4 linked regions of the Homo sapiens genome follow. The protein of the gene in region 1 purifies or fractionates together with the protein of each later gene. This does not show direct contact. Each region holds a gene or a part of one and is shown in the gene's direction. Other genes may lie near its edges. The genes, in order: H1-8, LLPH, NMNAT1 and HP1BP3.

Region 1 (7,031 bases):
AAAATTGGGGGCAGTTCTGCATCAATTCAACACACACAGAGGAGACAAAAGGGGCCCGATATCAGCACATGGCCCATTCCAGGAGCCGCAGTGTGGGTGAATTGTGGGATTCAAGCGGGGAGGAGGCTCCTTAAGTCAGACTGAAGAGCATGAACTTTCACCCACGGGCAGTGGGGAGCCATGCAGGATGCTAAGCGGGGGAGTGAAATCTGACTTCACTTTAGAACACTTTGATGACCACAGCCTCCCCGAGTCCAGATCTCTGGTGATGGAGAGCCCTCTGGGAAAATTCCACAATAAAGAGACTACCTAGAGAAGAATGTATGCTGTTTAAAACCCATCCCTTCCTCAGAGGTAACCACTTCTACTATTACCTTGGTATGAATCCATTCAGAACTTTTTTCTACTGCTTGTGACTGGTAAGATAAAAAAACAAAAAAATTTTTTAAAAATTAAAAAGAACTATTGTGCCTTCACACACACACACACACACACACACACACACGCAAGTTTTGTCTTCTCAGTAGTTGGGGTGTACTCTCCGATACATTCTGGTTCACTCCTTTTCACTACTGCATACTACTCCACTGTGCGAATAGGCCACAGTTTACTTGTTCACTCTCCACCTGATGGGCATTTATGTTGTTTTGAATTTCTGCTAAGATTGAAATAAACATCTTTGCACGTAAGTGTATATGTTTGTCTCAGATCTACGCCTAGAGTGGAATAGGTGGGTTGTGGAGTGAGTCCCTCCTTAGTTGTATGAAACATCGCTGAATTGCTTTCTAAGGCGGCTACCAGCTCACTCCCCACCCCCCAGCAGCTATACTTTCCTTGAATCCTAGTCACTCACTATTGATAGACACTTACATCTTTGTCATTTTGCTGAGTGTGAAATACAGCCTCATTCTTGTTTGTTTTCTTTTCTTTCCCTCCCCCTTTTTTTTGGGGGGGGCAGGGTCTTACTCTGTAGCCCAGGCTGGAGTGCAGGGGTGTGATCACAGCTCCCTGCAGCCTTGACCTCCCAGGCTCAAGCAATCCTCCTGCCTCGGCCTCCCAGGTAGCTGGGACTACAGGTGCACACCACCATGCCCAGCTAATTTTTGTATTTTTTGGTAGAGACAGGATTTCACTTTTTTGCCTAGGCTGGTCTTGAACTCCTGGGCTCAAGCGATCCTCCTGCCTCAGCCTCCCGAAGTTCTGGGATTACAGGTATGAGCCACCATGCCTGGCCTCTCATCCTTGTTTTAATCCATCTTGTCATTTTATATTATATTATATTATTTTATTTTATTTTTATTTACTTATTTTTGAGACACAGTTTCGCTCTTGTTGCCCAGGCTGGAGTGCAATGGCTCGATCCTGGTTCACTGCAGTCTCCAGCTCCCAGGTTCAAGTGATTCTCCTGCCTCAGCCTCCCAAGTAGCTGGGACTACAGGTGCACACCACCACGCCCAGCTAATTTTGTATTTTTAGTAGAGATGAAGTTTTACCATGTTGGCCAGGCTGGTCTCAAACTCCTGACCTCAGGTGATCCGCCCACCTCAGCCTCCCAAAGTGCTAGGATTACAGGCCTGAGCCACCGCACCAGCCCACCTTGTCATTTTAGATGGCTGCAGAATATTCTGCAGAAAGGGTGTGATTTAGCCAGGCCTTGGGTGTTTGCTTGGAAAGTTTTTTTTTTTTGTCTGTCAATTTGATGGGAAAAAGTAGTATTTCACCATTGTTTCAATTTGAATTTTCTCAAATGCCAAGGAAGTTGAGTGTCCATTTTCCTGTTTCTGTTCCTCACCCTTTAGGCTGGTGAATTGCCTGTTTATATTCTTTGTCCATTGTCCCAGTGGATGTTGTCCTTATCTATGAAGACTTTTGTGAAGCATCCTCCGTTATTGATTTATTTCTTTAAAAACAAAACCAAAGGAGGGCATAGGCCCAGAGAGCCTGGCTGGCCTCAGAAGGGGCTACTCTGATTGAGGGGCATGTGCTCTGGGCAAAAGTAGCAGTTGGGCTGCCTCCAACTGCTACTTTTTGAGAAATTGAGGCCAGCAGTGGCGTGGGGCAGCCCATTGCCCACCTGGTAGGATTAGAGGGCCGCCTCAGCGGCCTCCCTGACAACACAGGTGACCCCAATTCCTCATCAGCATCTCCAGCCCCTGGTGGGCAGAGGGCACAGGCGAGATCAAGCATCTCAGCTCCCAACATTGCACCATGGGGACTGAGACCCAGAGAAGTCAAGCGACACCCCCAAGCTTACACAGGAGTGGGTAGTCCAGCTGGGGCTCCCTACAGAAGGCAGGATGCTGTGCCCCATTCCACACCTCCAGCCCCAGTCAGCAGCTTGGAGCACTCCCAGCCCAATCAGGGCTGATTGGAGTGGTGGGGGTGGGCTGCTGGTATATAAGCCTAGTGGGCAGGCCCAGCAGCCTCACACCCGGGTGAGGGGTCTGCTGGCTGCACCTGTCGGTCTCATGGCTCCTGGGAGCGTCACCAGCGACATCTCACCCTCCTCGACTTCCACAGCAGGATCATCCAGGTCTCCTGAATCTGAAAAGCCAGGTGAGCAAGAGGAGGCAGCTCCTCCCTCATCCCTGCGAGCCCACTCCCTGGGTTGCCTTTGATGCTCCACCCCTGCTTCTCGTTCTTTCCCAGCCTGGCCCCAGCACCTACCCAGCACCCACCCAGCACTCACCCAGCACTCACCCAGCACCCACCCAGCACCAAGCTGCTGAGCTCAACTGCCTTTTGGCTGAAGAGCTGATCTACAGGTAGCAAGGCCAGGTAGGGCCTGGGGGCTGGGGCCGGCCTCGCTCAGGGAAGAGCCACAGGGCCTTCCAGCTGGAGCCCGTTTCCTGCTGGGACCGTAGCCCGTAGCCAGGCTGCAGCTGTGGGCAGCTAGTTGGAGGGACTGGGGCAGGAGCATTTTATGCAGGGCTAGGCATTCCGATTTTCAACCAAAAAACACCTCAGGGTTTATCTGGACATGAGGGTGCACCGAGGCAAACCAGGCCCAGTTCACTCCCTCGAGGACCTCCCGGTCTGATGGGGAAGCCTGGCCCATGGCTTGTTGCTGTTTGCTAATGTGATGTGTGCTTCAGTGGCGGTAATCCAGAGCTGGAGGAGCCCAGAGGAGTCCTCTAACCCACTCTGGGAGGTCAGGGAAAGCTTCCTAGAAGAGGTGACCCTGAAGGATGGGTGTGCCTCAGCCGGGGGAAGTGTTCTATTTGCCAAGACACCTAGGGAGATAGGGAGGGGGTCCAGGTGCCGAGAAGTAAAAGGGCAGAGTTAACTGGGAAGTCAGAGGTGTCCAAACCAAGGTGCATTTTGAGCCTTGAAGGATGAGTGAGAGCAGCCTGCATGACCGGGAGGAGAGAGGCAGCCCAGGCAGAGGAAACGGCATGGGCTAAGGCCCAGAGGCCAGCGCACCAGCAGCTTGTCTCGGAAGCTGCATCTTCCTTCTGGGAAGGAGGGAAGTGCTGGGGCAGTGCTAGGGGAGCAGTGGGAGGGCCTCCAAGGCGGTCTTCAGTTAGGTCAACTTTTATCTTGAACAGGGAGCCATGGACGGTTTCAAGCAGGGAGGTGAGGGGTGTGAGATACAGCGAGGAGAATGCATGCGGTGGGGAAGAGGCAGTGGGGAGGAGGCTGGGGCTGGGGAGTTGGAGAGGAGAGGCCAGAATATGGAGAGAAAAGCCTATGGGGAGGCCTCGAGTGGGTGTGGTGAGGAGGAAAGGGCCCAGAATGCCCCCAGTTCTTGCTTGGATGTTGGGTAGGTATGGGCAGTGGGGGCATGGGGCATTCCTGGAAGAGAGAGGAGGGGCAGATTTGGGGGGCTGAGCTCTGTTCTGGACATCCTGGTATACAGCAGGCATGGAATAGCTGCCGAATGAGGGGCTGGGATGAGAGGGAACAGACCTGAGGGAGGACTCCTGGGGGTGGCTCTCTGGGACAGACATGGTCTGGGGGAAGCAGAGGAGGGGTTGGAGCTGCTCGTGAAGTCAGGCCAAGCGAAGACCCTTGGGAAGCCCTGTAGCACTGCAGCTGGGAGGGCTCAGACCTCCTTAGAGGCCCCCGTCCCCACTGTACGGATGGGAAGACTGAGGCCTAGAGGGAAGAATGAAACTCCCGAGAACCCGGGAGTGACCCAGGACTACACCAGCTCAACGCCTTTGGCCCCCAAATGAATATTCCCACACTGGGCTCGTCATGGCCAGGACCCAACAGGGGTCGAAGTGATTAGGTCTCTTTATAATTTTGCTCTAGATCTAGAGTTTCATGGTTTTTTTTTTCTATTGAAAAAAAATTTTAATATAGCCAATTTTTTTTTTTTTTTTGAGACAGGGTCTTGCTTTGTCACCCAGGCTGGAGTGCAGTGGTGTGATCTCAGCTCACTGCAGTCTCCACTTCCCAGGCTCAAGCAATCTTCCCACCTCAGCCTCCCAAGTAGCTAGGCCTATAGGCACACACCACCACACTCTGCTCATTTTTAAAGATTTTCGTAGAGTCGAGGTCTCACGATATTGCCCAGAATTTAAGTCTTTAAATTCTGCAGATTGATCAGAAATCAACATTTCCATTCACCACATTTAAATCCGGTTTCATATTTAAATCCCTTTTATGCATTTCATGGTGACTGACAACTTCTCATGCTTCCCCCACCCTTGATCCCACTTCATTTGCAACTATTTTATAACACCTTATTGAGAAATAATTCCCATACAATACAATTCACCCTTTAAAGTGTACAATGGCTTTTGGTATACTCAGAGTTGTGTATCCATCTCTATAATCAATTTTAGAATATTTTCATCACTTCAAGAAAACCAGTACCCATTAGCAGTCACTCTCCACCCCCACTCCCCAGCCCTGGCAACCACCAATCTGCTTTCTGCATCTATGGACTTCTTATTCTGGACATTTCATATAAATGGAATCAGACAGTATGTGGCTTTTTCTGACTGCCTTTTTTCACTTTGCATGTTTCAGGGCTCCTCCATGTCGTAGCCAGGGCTTCACTCCTTTGTATGGCTGGATAATATTCCACGGGATGGGTAGCGACCACATTTTGTTCATCCATCTGTCAATCATTCATCATGGATGTTTGGGCTGGTTCCATCTTTGGGCCGACATGAATAGTGCTGCTATGAACATTCATGTGTACATTTTTGTGTGGACATGCGTTTTCATTTCCCTCAGGTATATACCGAAGAGTGGAATTTTTTGGTAACTTTTTATTATGAAAACTTTCAGGGCCGAGCATGGTGGCTCATGCTTGTAATCCTAGCACTTTGGGAGACTGAGGTGGGAAGATAGCTTGAACTCAGGAGTTTGAGACTAAACTGAGCAATGTAGTGAGACCTGTGTCAAATAACAATAACAATAATAATAATAATAATAATAATAATAATAATAATGATAATAATACAAACATTAGCCAGGCGTGGTGGTGTGTGCCTGTGGTCCCAGCTACTTCGGAGACTGAGGCAAGAGGATCACTTGAGCTGGAGAGGTCAAGGCTGCAGTGAGCCATGATTGTGGCACTGCACTCCAGCTTGGGTGACAGATTGAGACCCTGTCTCCATAAAACAAAACAAAAAACTTTCAAATGGATACAAAAGTAGACTACCAAATGGTCTGTAACTCCCTTCCACTGTACCCGTCACCCAGCTCCAACAGTCACCATCTTGTGGACACTCTTGTTTCATCTGCTGGGTTATTTCAAAGCAAATGCTGGATTTATGTATCATTTCATCTGTAAATATCTTTTATAATATTTACCTTTAACAGATAAGAGCCTTTTAAAAAGCAATTGTAATACCATTAGCACACTTGAAACAATATTATCCCTAATATCCGATATTTCCTTCCAGTGCTCACATTTATCTGTTGCCTTTCTTTTTCCAGTTGGATTGTTCAAATCCTGCTCTGGGAATGAGCATTTGGTTGAGAGGTTTCCTAAGGACCTTTAGTCCATAGGGTGCCCCTCCCACTTTTTCTTTCCCCCCTTATTTGTGGAAGAAACCCGGCTGTGTGCCCTGGAGAGTCTCTCAGTCTGGGTGCCTCTGAGAATGTGCACATAGCCCCCGGAGGTCCTGTAAACCCACAGTTACGAAATTCACCCAATTTAGATTGTTTTTCTAAAGGAATACTCCATTCTTTAAAAAGAGAGATTTGGCTGGGCACGGTGGCTCAAGCCTGTAATCCCAGCACTTTGGGAGGCCGAGGCGGGTGGGTCATGAGGTCAGGAGTTCAAGACCAGCCTGGCCAACATGGTGAAACCTTGTCTCTACTAAAAATACAAAAATCAGCCAGGTATGGTGGCAGCGCCTGTAATCCCAGCTACTTGGGAGGCTGAGGCAGGAGAACTGCTTGAACCCAGGAGGTGGAGGTTGCAGTGAGCTGAGATCACGCCATTGCACTCCAGCCTGGGGACATAGAGAGACAGTGTCTCAAAGAAAAAAAGAGAGAGAGACTCAGTGAGCCTTGAGGGGAGACCATCCGGGAGCTCCCATGCCAGCGGTCAGTGTCTTGGGGAGAGGGGGGCATCTGATCCTTGCTGGACCCTCACCCACCCCCCACGGGCCAGCTGATGCCTGCCACTGAGTTGTGACTGGGCCCCGGGTGATGGCCTGCCATCTCTCCTCAGGCCCGAGCCACGGCGGTGTCCCACCAGGAGGCCCGAGCCACAGCAGCCTCCCGGTGGGACGCCGCCACCCCCCGGTGCTACGCATGGTGCTGGAGGCGCTGCAGGCTGGGGAGCAGCGCCGGGGCACGTCGGTGGCAGCTATCAAGCTCTACATCCTGCACAAGTACCCAACAGTGGACGTCCTCCGCTTCAAGTACCTGCTGAAGCAGGCGCTGGCCACTGGCATGCGCCGTGGCCTCCTCGCCAGGCCCCTCAACTCCAAAGCCAGGGGGGCCACTGGCAGCTTCAAAGTAAGCGCCCCTGAGGGAGGACATAGCCCAGGGTTGGAGCAATGGTCCTGGCCTCTGTGAGTGCTGCGGCCTCTACTGGAAGGCCTTTCCCCTCCGGTCCC
Region 2 (6,392 bases), on another chromosome or scaffold:
ACTGTGTATGTACCATGTTGATCTTCATATAAGTTGCATGTTAAGTCCTAAAAAGTGAACAGATTGAAGAGTTTTACTTTTCACTTGTTTTGTAGAGATACCTGTTGGCCTGGTTTTCTAAGGATTTGCCTGTTTTCTTTTTTATATTAAAGATTTGCTTTTGAATGTGTGTTTTTGTTAACTTCAGGTAAAACATGGCTAAAAGCTTACGGAGTAAGTGGAAAAGAAAGATGCGTGCTGAAAAGAGAAAAAAGAATGCCCCAAAGGAGGCCAGCAGGCTTAAAAGTATTCTCAAACTAGACGGTGATGTTTTAATGAAAGATGTTCAAGAGATAGCAACTGTGGTGGTACCCAAACCCAAACATTGCCAAGAGAAAATGCAATGTGAGGTAAAAGATGAAAAAGGTGAGTGTGCTTCTCCTTTTTCTTTCTCTTTTTTTTTTTTTTTTTTTGAGGCAGGGTCTCCTTCCTCTGTCACCTAGGCTAGAGTGCAGTGGTGTGATTATAGCTTCCTGCAGCCTTGAATTCCTGAGCTGAAGCGGATTCTTCCCACCTCAGCCTTCCAAAGCACTGGGTTACAGGCATGAACCACAGTGCCCAGCCCCTCTGCGCTTCATTTAAAAACAAAAAAAATTCTGTCAAGCCTGTTCATGTATATACATATGTTTTGGATTATTTAGAGTGGGTCTTTGGTGCTTATACAATAGCCTCCATGTCTCAGGAATAAACAGTTCTACAGGAGTAGACAAATCTAGGCATACTCTGGTTGGAAGGGTACACAGTTCACTCAGGGCCTAGGCAGCATAGGTCTTCATTTTACTCTTTGTAAGATCTAATTCCCATTCTATGAGTCCTATGCCCTTATACTATTATCCTGAAAATCACAGGGTTTCACTATTTCATTTTGACAGATTCTAGGAACCTTTGTGTCTTAATCATGAAGTTGGAGGATATATATATAATGCTGCTTTTTGCACATTTAATGCACCAATTTGGCAGCAAACTAAATTAAGTATTTGCAATACCCAGACTTTAAAATAGAAATACATGTATTTGATGTCTTATGCCCAAGGAAAAGAGCAGTATTTCTCAATCTCCCAACCTTAGGGGGTTTTTTCCCTTTAAAAATGGCTGTTTTTAACTTTTTCTTCTTCCCATTTCATCCTTCTCCCACTCTGTATGAATAAAAATTACAAAAAGCATTTTACTTCAACTTCTGTGAGAAAAAGGGGCCAACCAAGAAATATCCTCATCTTTCCACTACCCAAGTCTATAAGAATTCAAATGTTGTATAGTCTGTTTTCCCTTTTTTATTAATGTTCTCTCCAAGGCCAGTTTCTCCACTTGTGTTCTGAATCCTCTCCACCGTTAACATTCTCAGGGGTTGTACTCATGCATCTGCCTTATCAGTCTCCTCCACTGGGTCATTGCCAACAGCATAGATGTGTTCTGGGATGTTCAATGTCAAAAGAAAGAAAGAAAAATTTCTCCCTTGATCTCAAGTTCTCTCAATCTGCTGCTTTATTTCAGCTGTCCTTGAAACTTTTTGAAACACTTGCCTTCACTTGCTGTTTTCATTTCCTCACACACACATCACCCCTCCCTATTGGTTCTTTTTTGTTGTTGTTAAGGCAAAATCCACATAACATAAAATTAACCATTTTAAAGTGTACAGTTCAGTGGTATTTAGTACATTCATGTTGTGCAACCATCACCTCTAGTTCCAAAACACTTTCCTCACCCTAAAAGGAAACTTAATACCCATTAAGAAGTCTGTCTCTCCTCCTCCTACCCCCAGCCTCTGGCAACCACTAATATGCTCTTTTCATGTGTGAATTTACCTGTTTTGAATATTTCTTATAAATGGAATCATATATAATGAGACCTTTGTGCCTGGCTTATTTCCCTTAGCATGGTGCTTTTGAAGGTCACGCACATTGTAGCATATATCAGTACTTCCTTTCTTTTTAAGGCTAAATAATAGTCCATTGCATGTACCACGTTTCATATCCATTCAACGGTTGCTGGGCATTTGGATTTCTTTCCCCTTATGGGTGTTGTGAATAGTGCTGCTGTGAACATTCAGGTGCACAAGGTTTTGTTTGATAAGTGGAATTGCTGGGTCATATGGTAATTCTTTTTAATGTTCTCCACATCAGCCACACTATTTTACATTCCCACCTGCAGTGTTTGAGTATTTGAGTTTCTTCACATCCTCACTAATACTTGTTTTCCATTTTCGGATTATAGCCATCTTCGAGGGTATGAAATAGATTCTCATTGTAATTTTGATTTGAAGTTTCCTAATGACTAATGACATTGAATGAAGTGTTTTTTGGTTTTTGTTTGTTTGTTTTTTGTTTTTTTTTTTTGAGATGGAGTCTTACTGTTGCCCAGGCTGGAGTGCAGTGGCATGATCTCGGCTCACCACAACCTCTGCCTCCCAGGTTCAAGCAATTCTCCTGCCTCAGACTCCCAAGTAGCTGGGAATACAGGCGTGTGCCACCATGCCCAGCTGAATTTTGCATTTTTAGTAGGGTTGGGGTTTCACCATGTTGGCCAGGCTGGTCTTGAACTCCTGACCTCAAGTGATCCACCTGCCTCAGCCTCCCAAAGTGCTGGGATTACAGGTGTGAGCCACCACACCCGGCTGAACATTTTTTCATATGCTGATTGACCATTTGTATTATCTTTTTGGAGAAAGGTCTACTCAAGTCTTTTGCCTCGTTTTTCAATTACGTTGTTTGTCTTTTTATTATCGGGTTGTTAAGAGTTCTTTATATGTTCTAGATACCAGATGCCCACATCCACTCTTGATTCTTTTGGATTGATCCTGTTTTCTTTTCTCTCCTGTTTTCTATTTATTTTGTTATACCCTCTAATTTCCTTGACCTTGAATTCTGGTTCTTATTACTTGGTTTTCTCTTATATTTTTAATTTCTAAAAGTTTTTCTTTTTTTTTTTACTTTTTTTTTTTGAGATGAACTCTCACTCTGTCGCCCAGGCTGGAGTGCAGTGGCATGATCTCGGCTCACTGCAAGCTCCATCTCCCGGGTTCGCGCCATTCTCCTGCCTCAGCCTCCCTAGTAGCTGGGACTACAGGCGCCTGCGATCACACCCGGCTAATTTTTTGTATTTTTAGTGGAGACGGGGTTTCACCATGTTAGCCAGGATGGTCTCGATCTCCTGACCTCGTGATCCACCCGCCTCGGCCTCCCAAAGTGCTGGGATTACAGGCGTGAGCCACTGCGCCTGGCCTACTGTTCCTTTTTCATAGCTTTGTGTTCTTTGTGTTTTGTAAATGCCCCTTGAGTCATCAACTCTGTGTTCTTAATGGGCATATATCTTCTCCTAAGGGTATTAATTACAATTTGCTTTTGAAATTTTTATTTATGGTATGTATTATCTGTCTTTCCTCTTGGAATTCCCTCCCAAGCCCTTCCATTCCTTTACTTTTGTCTCTTTCTTTCATATTAGAAGCTTTTCTCAAATGTCTGGTGATCAGTGGTCATTGTTTGTATTTAAAAGTGTGGCACTACAATGATGATTGGAAGCTGGAGGGAGACAAGGTGTGGGAGAGGGTCTGTCAACTGCTAGATGTATAGAAGATTTGGAATGGCTCCAGGAGGTTTTATTCGGAGATCTCCTGTATCAGAATCTGTTAAGTCTTTTTTTTTCCTCATCATCCCCAGAGAGAAATTATCTTATGTCCTGCCTGGGGAATTCTGGATGCCCTTATTCTTAGATATTTTAGGAGCTAAAGGGTGGTGAGACTGAGACTGAGGGAGTCTCCCCATTTAGTAATCTATTTGTTATCAATTTGGCTCTCATCTCTACCCTCAAGTTCATGTTTTTCCTTATTTCTACTCTTTCAACTGCCTGCCTGATTTCTTAAGCCATAAACCTAGTAGTCATCCTTGATTCCTCTTTCCTTTATTCCCCACATCTAAACCATTAGCAAGTCTTACTGATTGTCCCAAAAATACATTAGAAATCTGTATCCATTTTTTTCCTGCTTTCACCTTGATTCAGAAGGCCGTCATCTCTTGCCTGTACTATTATAGGAGCCTTTTTACTTCTCTCTTCCGCTCTTGTTCCCTTCTCATTTATCTTCTACATATCCACCAGTGTGATCTTTTCAGAAGGTAAATCAGTTTATATCACTGCCATGCTTAAAAACCTCATTATCTTAACATGTTCTTACCAGCGCCTACCAGTTCTTTTTTTTGCGGGGAGACAGGATCTCACTTTGTTGCCCAGGCTGGAGTATAGTGGCTGTTCACAGGCGTGACCAAGCCCACAACATCCTTGAACTCCTGGCCTCAAATGATCCTCCCACCCCAGTCTCCCGAATAGCTGAGACTACAAATGCCTATAGATACTATACCTGGCTGAGGTTTTCTTTCTGTTTGCTGTGTTATTCTCCCGTCAACAGAACACTGTAAACTCCGTGAGGGCTAGGAGTTCATATGGACCACTATATCCCCATAAACTAGAACAGCACCTAAAATAATCATTCAACACCTAGTTATTGAGTGGCTGTTATATACCAGACACTATTCTAGATACTGTGGAAACAATGGCAAATATCTAATATAATGCCAGGTAGTCGAGATAATAGAAGACTTTGTGTATCCTGATAAGGAGGTCCCAGTGAGGGACTCTGAGCATGTCCTTCACAGTGGAGAAGGTGATAGGTGTACCACAGCATGTTTGCACTGAGCTTCCTGCCAAGTCTCCTATCAGTAGAGCTGGATCTCTGGGTGTTACCTAGCTAGGAAAAGTATGCCAGCCCCAGGATGTGTCCAGGTCTTCTCTGTTGAGTGCCTGTCTCTGCCATTACAACCCTGCTGCTGACTACTCCATCGAGTTCATTAGAAGTTCGTTCTCAGTTCATTATAATTTAGTTCAAGTTCTTAAGAAATGGCCAGTCATTCCTAATCAGTTCATTACATCTAAGGTGTATCCCTTAGAAGTGTAGGTATGCTTACTGAACTCAAGGAATCACTTAATATGAGAAATGTTGTTGTAACTCACATGTGCTCAGAACCATATATCTACTAATGTACTAACTCAGAGCCATGCATCCTAAATGTTTCCTATTTAACATTACTATTCTAAGGAAGGACAGTCATGCCAACATTCTTTATAAAGTTTTTTTCTTCTCTATTTTCGGTCTACCTTCAGTTCTAATGTTCTGATGTTCTCAGTGCATTAATATGCTTTCACAGGGTGGTTTTTTTCATACATGGTGTTAATAGTTTTTCCATCTTTTTATGCAGATGACATGAAAATGGAGACTGATATTAAGAGAAACAAAAAGACTCTTCTAGACCAGCATGGACAGTACCCAATATGGATGAACCAAAGGCAAAGAAAAAGGCTGAAGGCAAAGCGAGAGAAAAGAAAGGGGAAAAGCAAAGCAAAAGCAGTGAAAGTGGCAAAGGGTTTGGCCTGGTAGACTCTTAAAACCTTGGAAAATGCCACATGGGATAGATGACGGATTAGAATGTATACACATGTATACTTTGATTTCAACTGCCACCAAATGAAAACCATTTGTTTTCCTATTTTAACTTGGCCTTTTTTCTTCAATTCAAACCCAGCATAACTCCTCAAGTTTGTTTTGGGAACTTGAATAAAATATTTTCTTTGATACATCCAAGCTCTACTGATACTTTAACTGGATGCTACCCAATATCCAGTTATAATCAGGCCTCAACGTTCTGTCAGGTATTAATATGGTTAGAATTGTTCTTACAACTGGTAATTATAGTCAATAGAGATAAAACAGATGATGTACTGACAAATTTTTGTGAACTTAGATTTTAAAGAAAGTTGTTGTATAATCATATCATTTAAAAATACTACATTAGGGCTGGGCATGGTGGCTCACACCTGTAATCCCAGCACTTTGGGAGGCCGAGGCAGGTGGATCACGAGGTCAGTTCGAGACTAGCCTGGCTAATACAGTGAAACCCCATCTCTACTAAAAATACAAAATTAGCCGGGCATGGGGGCGCGCACCTGTAGTTCCAGCTACTCGGGAGGCTGAGGCAGGATAATTGCTTGAACCCAGGAGATGGAGGTTGCAGTGAGCCAAGATTGCCCCACTGCACTCCACCCTGGGCAATGGAGTAGGACTCTGTCTCAAAAAAAAAAAAAATAATGGATCTTATAAAGTACTTGTGTGGAGCTTTGATTCCACAGAATAAAAGATATTTTGTGTGTAGATCTTCAAGTCTGATTTTTTTTTCTTTCATGTATGCTTAAGGTTTTTTAGTCCTAGAGAAGACCAGATTTCAATTAAATGTTTTCTTATCTTAATTTTAGGTAGAATATTAACATATACAAATCAGTATGCTTTTTAGGAAATTAGAACATTTCAGGTT
Region 3 (6,392 bases), on another chromosome or scaffold:
GCTCACTGCAACCCCTGCCTGCCAGGTTCAAGTGATTCTCCTGCCTCAGCCTCCCAAGTACCTGGGATTACATGTGTGCGCCACCACACTCGCTAATTTTTGTATTTTTGGTAGAGATGGGGTTTCACCATGTTGGTCAAGCTGGTCTTGAACTCCTGACCTCAAGCGATCTCTCTGCTTTGACCTCCCAAAGTGCTGGGATTACAGGTGTGAGCAACCGCACCTGGCCAAGAATATTTATTTTGAAGTCCAAGCACAGTAGCTCATGCCTGTAATCCCTTTGAGAGGCTGAGGCAGGAGGCCAGGAATCTGAGACCCACCTTGACAACATAGTGAGACCCTGTCTCTGCAAAAGATTTAAAAAATATAGCCAGGTGTGGTGGCATGTGCTTGTGGTCCCAGCTACTTGGAGGCTGAGGCAGGAAGATCATTTGAGCCTAGGAGGCAGAGGCTGCAGTGACCTGTGATCATGCCATTGGACTCCAGCCTGGGCAACACACCGAGATCCTTTCTCAAAAAAAAAAATTTTATTCAGAAGTATTTGGCTGGGCACGGTGGCTCACGCCTGTAATCTCAACACTTCGGGAGGCTGAAGCAGTCAGATCACTTGAGGTTAGGAGTTTGAGACCAGCCTGGCCAACATGGTGAAACCCCGTCTCTACCAAAAATACGAAAATTAGCCAGGCATGGTGGGGCATGCCTGTAGTCCCAGCTACTTGGGAGGCTGAGGCAGGAGAATCACTGTAACCTGGGAGGCAGAGGCTGCAGTGAGCTGAGATCGTGCCACTGCACTCCACCGTGGGCAACAGAGGGAGACTCCATCTCAAAACAGAAAGAAATTATTTATAAATATTATTGACCGGGCGCGGTGGCTCACGCCTGTAATCCCAACGCTGTGGGAGGCTGAGGCAGGCAGATCACCTGAGGTCAGGAGTTCAAGACCAGCCTAGCCAACATGGTGAAACCCCATCTCTACTAAAAATACAAAAATTAGCTGGGCATGGTGGCAGGCACCTGTATTCTTAGCTACTCAGGAGGCTGAGGCAGGAGAATCGCTTGAACCCAGGAGATGGAAATTGCAGTGAGCCAAGATTTTGCCACTGCACTCCAGCCTGAGCAGCAGAGTGAGACTTAGTCTCAAAAAAAAAAGTATGTATATATAATTATATACAAATATTTATTTGAAAACCTTTACAATAGCAAAGTTATTTTTTTAACTTGTTGAAAACTAGTAGGCAGCATTTAAAAGGTTCTGTACAATGAATGAAAAAGATACTGTCATCACTGGGCATTCCAGAGTACTAGGGATAAGATAATATACTACACATCTTCTAGAAAGTAAAAGCAGGTTACACATAAAGGAACAAGGATTAGAATGACCTCAGACTTTCAACAGCAATGTTGAATGCCAGCAAACAATGAAGAAGTGCCTTTATAATCTTAAAAGAATAATTTCAAAAATTATTTGGGCTGGGCACAGTGGCTCGAGCCTGTAATCCCAACACTTTAAAAGGCCGTGGCGGGCAGATCACCTGAGGTCAGGAGTTCAAGACCAACCTGGCCAAAGTGGTGAAACCCTGTGTCTACTAAAAATACAAAAATTAGCTGGGCATGTTGGCAGGCATCTATAATCCCAGCTACTCAGGAGGGTGAGGCAGGAGAATTGCTTAAACCTGGGAGGCAGAGGTTGCAGTGAGCCAAGATCTTTCCACTGCACTCCAGCCTGGGTGACAGAGTGAAACTAAGTCCCCCCGGCTCCCCGCAAAAAAAAAATTATTTGAAATTATTGAGTTGAAAAGAATTTTCTCAAGCCATTAATAATTGAAGGAAGAATAACAACATCGTCGAACTTACTTGATCTCCCATGCGCCTATCAAACTTACTTGATCTCCCACGAATCCTACTGGAGCATATTCTCAAGTAGTTTCATGATAAAGGGTGTATGAGAGATCAACCCTTTATCATGAAACGCTTGAGGATACGCTCCAGAAAGATTAGAAAGCAAAGCGAGAAATAAATAGGGGATCTAACCCAGGAAAGAGATGAAGAAGTTTTCAGAATAATAGCTTCACAAATAGAGATTTTTCATCTGGATAAGAGGAGGAGAGTTCCAGAAAGAAAATCCTCTGGGAAAAAAACAGATTGAATAGAATAGCAATTGTAAATTAAACCATTTGAAATTGATGTTTTGTTGATTAAAAAAAAAATTGCTTGCTGAGCACAGTGGCTCATACCTGTAAGCCCAGCACTTTGGAATTGGCCAAAGTGGACAGGTTCGCTTCGAGATTCTGAGCCCAGGAGTTTGAGACCAGCCTGGGCAATATGGCAAAACCCCATCTCTACAAAAAATACAAAAAAACAATTAGCCAGTGCATGCCTGTAGTCCCAGCTGCTTGGGAGGCTGAGGTCGAAGGATCACTTGAGCCTGGGAGATGGAGGTTGCAGTGAGCTGAGATTGTACCACTGTACTCCAGCCTGGACAACAGAGTGAGATACTGTCTCAAAAATCAAAAAACAAAAGACAATTCTAGTAACATAATTTGCAACATTCATAATAGCTATATTCATAGCATGTTTGCTATTTGCCAAATGTAGTTTTTTTTTTTGTTTTTTTTTGAGATGGAGTCTCGCTCTGTTGCCCAGGCTGGAGTGCAGTGGCACGATCTTGGCTTGCTGCAAGCTCCGCCTCCTGGGTTCACGCCGTTCTCCTGCCTCAGCCTCCCGAGTAGCTGGGACTACAGGTGCCCGCCACCACGCCTGGCTAATTTTTTTGTGTTTTTAGTAGAGATGGGGTTTCACCATGTTAGCCAGGGTGGTCTCGATCTCCTGACCTCGTGATCTGCCCATCTTGGCCTCCCAAAGTGCTGGGATTACAGGCGTGAGCCGCCGCGCCTGGCCTGCCAAATGTAGTTCTATGTCTTGGATCTGTATTGTTTCATTTAATCCTCACAACAATCAGGAGGTAGGTAGTATTATTTTCTCCTTTTTAAGATTGATTAAAAACTGGGACAAGGTGGGCACTGTGGCTCATGCCTGTAATGCCAATACTCTGGGAGGCCGAGGCAGGTGGATCACTTAAGGTCAGGAGATCAAGACCATCCTGGCTAACATGGTGAAACCCCGTCTGTACTAAAAATACAAAAAATAATTAGCCAGGAGTGGTGGCGGGCACCTATAGTCCCAGCTACTCGGGAGGCTGAGGCAGGAGAATGGCATGAACCCAGTAGGCGGAGCTTGCAGTGAGTCGAGATCATGCCACTGCACTCCAGCCTGGGCGACAGGGCGAGACTCTGTCTCAAAAAAAAAAAAAAAAAAATTAGCCAGGTGTGGTGGCACGTGCCTGTAATCCCAGCTACTTGGGAGGCTGAAGCAGGGAGGATTGCTTGAACCTGGAAGGCAGAGGTTGCAGTGAGCTGAGATCGTACCACTGCACCCCAGCCTGGGTGACAGAGCGAGACTCTGTCTCAAAAAAAAAAAAAAAAAGCCAAAGAAAAAACCTGGCACAAAAGGAAGGTTAAGTTAGGGTTAGGTTGCCCAAGGTCATGCCGTTGGAGCTGCAATTTGAAGCCAGGCAGCCTAATATCAGAGCATAGGCTCTTAACTCTTCTGTTATATAGGCGGGAAATTGTAGGATACTTTCTTGTAGAGTCTGACTAATCCAAGCAAAAAGACCTGCGGTACTGACAGGTTACTGAACAGTTATGGCCCCTGTGCACAAGCCCTACCTACCCACTCAGCCTGTCCCATCAGCTCTTTTTGAAGAAACTTTAAAATATATCATGAATATTGGTAGAGAAATAGAGATGATAATCTGTTGGGGAAATGAGTAGAATACCATAAACAGGAGTATTCAGAGGATAGGGCTCTTGGAAATTAAGAGTGTAATGGCAGAAGTGAAAACTAGGCAGATTGGAGGATGAAGTTGAGGCTATCAGGAAATTAGAGCATGAAGGCAGGAGGTGGAAAATACAGAAAAAATGATTAGATGCTTCAGCTCTAAATAATAGACATTTTCAGGCCAGGCACAGTGGTTCATGGGCGGCTGAGGTGGGTGGATCACTTGAGGCCAGGAGTTCGAGACCAGCCTAGCTAACATGGTGAAACCCATCTCTACTAAAAATTCAAAAGTTATCTGGGTGTGGTGGTGCATGCCTGTAGTCCCAGCTACTTGGGAGGCTGAGGCAGGAGAATTGCTTGAACCTGGGAGGTGGAGGTTGCAGTGAGCTGAGATCGTGCCACTGCACTCCAGCCTGGGTGAGAGAGGGAGACTCTGTCTCAAAAAAATAAATAAATAATAGACATTTCAAAAGAACAGATAAAATGGGAGGCAGAAAATCATCAATGAAAGAACTCAAGGACATTTTCTAGAACTGAATGTTACAAGTTTCCAGACTGAAAGGACCTGCTTGCCCTGTGCTCAGCATGATGGATAGAAACAAAGCTGCACTAGAGGACAGCACTGTGAAATTTCAGAACACTGCGGACAAAGAGAAGACCTTACATGCTTCAAGACAGGAAAAAAATGACATTCAAAAGCTCCGGAATTAGAAGTGGCTTTGGATTTCATGCTATTAACATTGGAATCTAGAAGTAATGCCTTTGAAGTTGTGAGAGAAGATGATTTTCAACATAGTCTGGAGATAAACTATATTGGGCAGTTTGGGAGAAGGTAGTCAAAGGGTATGAGGGCTAATCTTTATAGATCATAAAGTCAATGGGCACTGTTATAGTTGGATAAATTAAGAAATGGCATTATAAGCACATAATGTAGAGTTATGGTAGAAACTACCAGAAGAAATAGCTGAAAAAGTTAAAAGTGGTTGGATGGAAGGGATGATGAGTGGAATATGATTGATGGCTGTTGGTTTTCATTAAGGGCCTTTTTTACCCTGTGATGTTCTAGATCTATATATATGAATTAGTTGAATAAGAAATTTTAGGCCAGGCGCAGTGGCTCACGCCTGTAATCCCAGCACTTTGGGAAGCTGAGGCAGGCGGATCACAAGGTCAGGAGATGAAGACCATCTAACATGATGAAACCCCGTCTCTACTAAAAATACAAAAAATTAGGCAGGTGTGGTGGCAGGCACCTGTAATCCCAGCTACTCGGGAGGCTGAGGCAGAAGAATGGTGTGAACCTGGGAGGCGGAGCTTGCAGTGAGCTGAGATCGCGCCAATGCACTCCAGCCTGGGCAACAGAGTGAGACTCCCGTCTCAAAAAAAAAAAAAAGAAATTTTAATAAAAACCTAAAATTGGATGCCTTATGTTACTTCATTAGGGTTATGGAAGGATCAGTGGAATAACTGATATGAAAAAGAGGTTTGTAAATTATATTCTATTATTTAGTGGAAAGTTATGATGTTACTATCATGTTGACTAAAAGGCAAAAATGCTGTATTTGGTAGATGATAATATTGTTGTATTAATTAACTGTGGCCACAATAGTGCAATCACAAAACTTGAGTGACATATGATAATGAACACTAATTTTTTGTTTTTGAGACTAGGGTCAGCTTGTTGGCTTGACGATCTGAGCCAGGTTTGGTTGATCTCACTTGGGTTTGCTTATGTGTCTGAGCAGATGGACTGTAGTTGGCTGGTCGGGGATGGCTATGTTCCCCACATGTGGGGTGGTTGTCTATCAGTGGGAGCATCGGTGCTCTCCCACATGTTCTGGCATCCTCCACACTAACACTTGTGCCACATTCTTTTGCCCAAAGCAAGTCAAAAAATGTGGAGAAGTCACTTCCATCTCTTCATGGTAGAAGTTGCAGATTCACATTGAAAAGGAGGGATGGAGATGTGGAAACATTTTTAGAGTTAGCATAATGATTGAAGCCAATTTTTTTTTTCTTTTTGAGATGGAGTCTCTCTCTGTCGCCAGGCTGGAGTGCAGTGGCACAGTCTCGGCTCACTGCAACCTCCGCCTCCTGGGTTCAAGTGATTCTCCTGCCTCAGCCTCCCAAGTAGCTGGGATTACAGGTGCCTGTCACCACACCCAGCTAATTTTTGTATTTTTTGTAAAGACGAGGTTTTACCATGTTGGCCAGGATGGTCTTGATCTCTTGACCTCATGATCCACCCGCCCCAGCCTCCCAAAGTGCTGGGATTACATGTGTGAGCCACCACGCCCAGCCAAAGCCAAATACTTTTAATCCATCTATTGGGAATGAGAATGTGGAAGGACATCAAAAGACCTATAACTGGGCTGGGCGTGGTGACTCATGCTTGTAATCCCAGCACTTTGAGAGACTGAGGTGGAAGGGTTGCTTGAGACCAGTAGTCTGAGAGCAGCCTGGGCAACATAGCAAGACCCCCATCTCTACAAAAATTAGTCTTTAAAATAATTAGCCAGCCTATTGGTATGTGCCTGTGTTCCCAGCTACTTGAG
Region 4 (3,500 bases), on another chromosome or scaffold:
ACCTTTTTAATTCATTTATAGTACCCAGTTTTTAAAGAAGATTTATTTTGTAAAATTTTGCTTATGGTACATGTCATCTTAGCCTGTAAATAAATTAAAGCATTAATTTTTATCCCTCCCTGGTCTTTTCCTCCTTCTGACTTTATACGTCTTTCTAGAGAGCTTATCTTCTATAATAACAATTCTTTGTTTTAAAGTGAGAAAGATCAGTCTAAAGAAAAGGAGAAGAAAGTGAAAAAAACAATTCCTTCCTGGGCTACCCTTTCTGCCAGCCAGCTAGCCAGGGCCCAGAAACAAACACCGATGGCTTCTTCCCCACGTCCCAAGATGGATGCAATCTTAACTGAGGCCATTAAGGCAAGTTTTTATTTCAAGCAATTCATCTTAGATTTATTATGTTCATTTTTTTCTTATTTGAAAATGGCATATATCTGTCTAGACATCATAAATCTTGTTCTGCTTCCTAAAGGAGTTTTAAAGAGAGGAAAGTCATTATAAGTTCATGTTTTTCTAATATAATCACATTTGGTGAACACTGTTAATTTTTTTAAAAAAATTATATTTAATATAGCAAATATTTTAACTTTAGAATTTTTAAATGCAGTTTATCGATTAAGTACAGTTTTTATTTGAAGGCTGAAAATGTTAATTCATTGAACAAACATTTAAGGACTACCTTCCTCTGTTGGGCGCCCCTGCTAGTGGTGAATTAACTAAGGCTAGCAAAGTCCTTGCCCTTATAAATCTAATTGTGACTCAGTAACTGAAAAATATTGAGAATTTTTGTTTAAAAAATATCTCTAGGTTCATTTCTAAAGCTAAGTGATCTTGGTAGTGGTTATCTTTCACACCTGAACCCTGTTAATAAACACTGCTTTATTACCTAGACATTCCAAAATGCTTACAAAAATTATCCTCCTTACATAGATTTATGATTTCATTGACTTTCATTAGATGTAGTTTTCCTATTTTAATTTTTAAAGGTTATCTTCTAATTTGACATTGCCTTTATTGTATAAGTCTTTTCATTTAATTTTGCCTTGTTTAGTTCATATGATCAGATGATAAGAGGAGTTAGAACAGACCCATCTTTCAGGGACCCTGTTGTTAGGATCTGAGGCAGGACTGGGGAGACAGGGATACAGATGATTTTAACCAGAAAAGGGGGGATGTGTACGAAAAGGAGCAGCCTGGTTGTCATTCTCAGAATATGAGAAGATAGCACTAACACATAAACTGGAAAAAGGGTTTGCCTTCAGACTTCTCCCTTTACTCCTTCAAGACTTCTTATGCTCTCACCTCATTAAGAAAACTTTATTGGTCTAGATTACCTCACTGTAGTGAAATCTCTGTTCTTTGTATAGCCTTTCTTCAAGGATTTCACTTGATGACCACTCAGCCTGGGTTTGAAGGAGCAGCATCATAGTGAGGATGGAAAAAGGGCTGAAACTTTAAAATAGTGAAATAAAAAATTAAAACAATATCAATTTGGCTTAAAGAATGGTTTGAATATAATTGTGCATATTTATGGAGATGATTGATTTTATATAGATAATGTGTATTCCATGCAATATGACAAATTATTGTTTCAGACCATGGATACCATTTTCTGTATTGAACAGGAATCATGATGTCTACTACCATCTCACTGTCGGATTGGTGGAGCAAAAGATTATTTGTTTCAGCATTAGTGTTCTTTTCTGCTTGATTTTCTTTGCTCTGTGTTTTCTTTTAAGATCAGGAGTAAACCTCAGTAGGTCATTAATAGTTCAGAGACATAGACTTGAATTACATGACCCATATTAATACAACTTGTTTCGTGTTGTGCAATCTTTTCTGGACCATCTACCTGTGAGTTATTTTTCTTTGTTGTCAAAATGTATAAAAACATTCAACGAAGTTCTTATCCAATGAGAATGAATAAGTGCTACATTGATTTAATAGACACTGTGGCAGTACAAAATTGATGGACTAGCTCATTAGATAAATGACAGATGCTACTTTTGTGTGTTTCAAAATTTAAAGTATTTGATTTCAAGTCAGTGACCAGTTGGAAAACAAAATTTTAAGCATTTGAAAAAAATTAAGTATTTGCTGCCTTTGTGACATAATGAGCTACTTAATTCTTCCAGGTGCATTAGTCAAATGGAGTATAAGTAAAATAGGATGGAAATGGAAGAGGGCACATTAAATTCAAATAGAACACCTTCACTATTACCCAAAACTCTCCTTCAGCACTTTGCCATCTGTAAACCCATTTTTATGCCACTTATTCAGATTATCTTTGATTCTTCTTTCTGCTGACATTCATACAGAGCCTTCAGGGAAATGTCCTGGCATGCTCATTCCTTAAGCTCGTGCCTTAAAATGGGACAGATCTGTGATCCTGTAAGTGATAGGTTTGTTCTGCTTTTCTCATTTTGATGCCAAAGATTCATCTTCTAAATACAGAATGGAATTAAAATGGAAAGAGGTTCTTCATTATACATAGAATGTTGTTCGTGTTCAGTATGGTCTCTTAGGCTGTTTTGAACAATTTAAAATTGTAGTAGAAATATTTAGTAATTCTGTTACTTCTCTGTAGTCATTATGAACTGAAGTCTTCTGAAGTTCATTCTTCCCTACCGTTTTTGTCATCTATCATCAAATTCACTTCCAAAATAATTTATTTTGAAAATATATGTCAGGCTCTATCTAATAAAAAAAAACAACTAGTTTAATAAATCTTTTCTAGGCATGCTTCCAGAAGAGTGGTGCATCAGTGGTTGCTATTCGAAAATACATCATCCATAAGTATCCTTCTCTGGAGCTGGAGAGAAGGGGTTATCTCCTTAAACAAGCACTGAAAAGAGAATTAAATAGAGGAGTCATCAAACAGGTATTACACAATTGTTAGTAGTAAGATCATTTCATTGTGTATTAGCTTTAAGTCTACAGTTAGTAACATTTAGGCTTTTTGTGCCTTTTTTGTTAAAAATAAGTTTCATGATGATGAAATTCCTTAAGTTTAACCTAGTTGAATTATCTGAGGCTAGGTTTCGAAAATGCTGGTGCCATTAAGATAGTGTAACTTTTTTCTAGCTTACTTTGCTCTTAATTGGATATTTTTTGGGGGGCTGCTTGTGCTTGAAATCATGTAGCACTGAACATGAAAAAGAGGTAAGGAATCCTACTACTGAAACAGCAAAAATGAGGCTAGGGATGGTGGCCTACACCTGTAGTCCCAGCACCTTGGGAGGCTTAGTTGGGAGGATCACTTGAGCCCAGGAGTTCGAGACCAGCCTGGGCAACATAGCAAGACCCCTTCTCTACAAAAAATACAAAATCAGCAGGGTTTGGTGACACATGCCTCTAGTCCCAGGTACTTGGAAGGCAGAGGCAGGAGGACCGCTTGAGCCTGGGAGGTTGAGGCTATTGTGAGTTACGATCTCACCACTCCAGCCTCGGTGAGAGTGAGACCCTGTCTGAAAACAAAAAGGAATAACAGAAATAATAATTGC

Evidence for each region.
Region 2: the proteins of H1-8 (region 1) and LLPH purify together in Homo sapiens (affinity purification with mass spectrometry; one large-scale study listed by BioGRID and IntAct). This does not show direct contact.
Region 3: the proteins of H1-8 (region 1) and NMNAT1 purify together in Homo sapiens (affinity purification with mass spectrometry; one large-scale study listed by BioGRID and IntAct). This does not show direct contact.
Region 4: the proteins of H1-8 (region 1) and HP1BP3 purify together in Homo sapiens (affinity purification with mass spectrometry; one large-scale study listed by BioGRID and IntAct). This does not show direct contact.

Annotation. Positions count from the first base shown.
Region 1 is NC_000003.12:129,540,751-129,547,781, forward strand, and holds the start of H1-8 (histone H1.8), read left to right. Parts: upstream 1-2,424; 5' UTR 2,425-2,468; coding exon 2,469-2,556; intron 2,557-6,640; coding exon 6,641-6,930; intron 6,931-7,031. UniProt on the Homo sapiens protein: May play a key role in the control of gene expression during oogenesis and early embryogenesis, presumably through the perturbation of chromatin structure. Essential for meiotic maturation of germinal vesicle-stage oocytes.
Region 2 is NC_000012.12:66,122,909-66,129,300, reverse strand, and holds part of LLPH (protein LLP homolog), read left to right. Parts: intron 1-187; 5' UTR 188-194; coding exon 195-405; intron 406-5,282; coding exon 5,283-5,461; 3' UTR 5,462-6,392. UniProt on the Homo sapiens protein: In hippocampal neurons, regulates dendritic and spine growth and synaptic transmission.
Region 3 is NC_000001.11:9,965,474-9,971,865, forward strand, and holds part of NMNAT1 (nicotinamide/nicotinic acid mononucleotide adenylyltransferase 1), read left to right. Parts: intron 1-1,907; exon of another isoform or gene 1,908-1,985; intron 1,986-6,392.
Region 4 is NC_000001.11:20,770,308-20,773,807, reverse strand, and holds part of HP1BP3 (heterochromatin protein 1-binding protein 3), read left to right. Parts: intron 1-197; coding exon 198-357; intron 358-2,734; coding exon 2,735-2,878; intron 2,879-3,500. UniProt on the Homo sapiens protein: Component of heterochromatin that maintains heterochromatin integrity during G1/S progression and regulates the duration of G1 phase to critically influence cell proliferative capacity.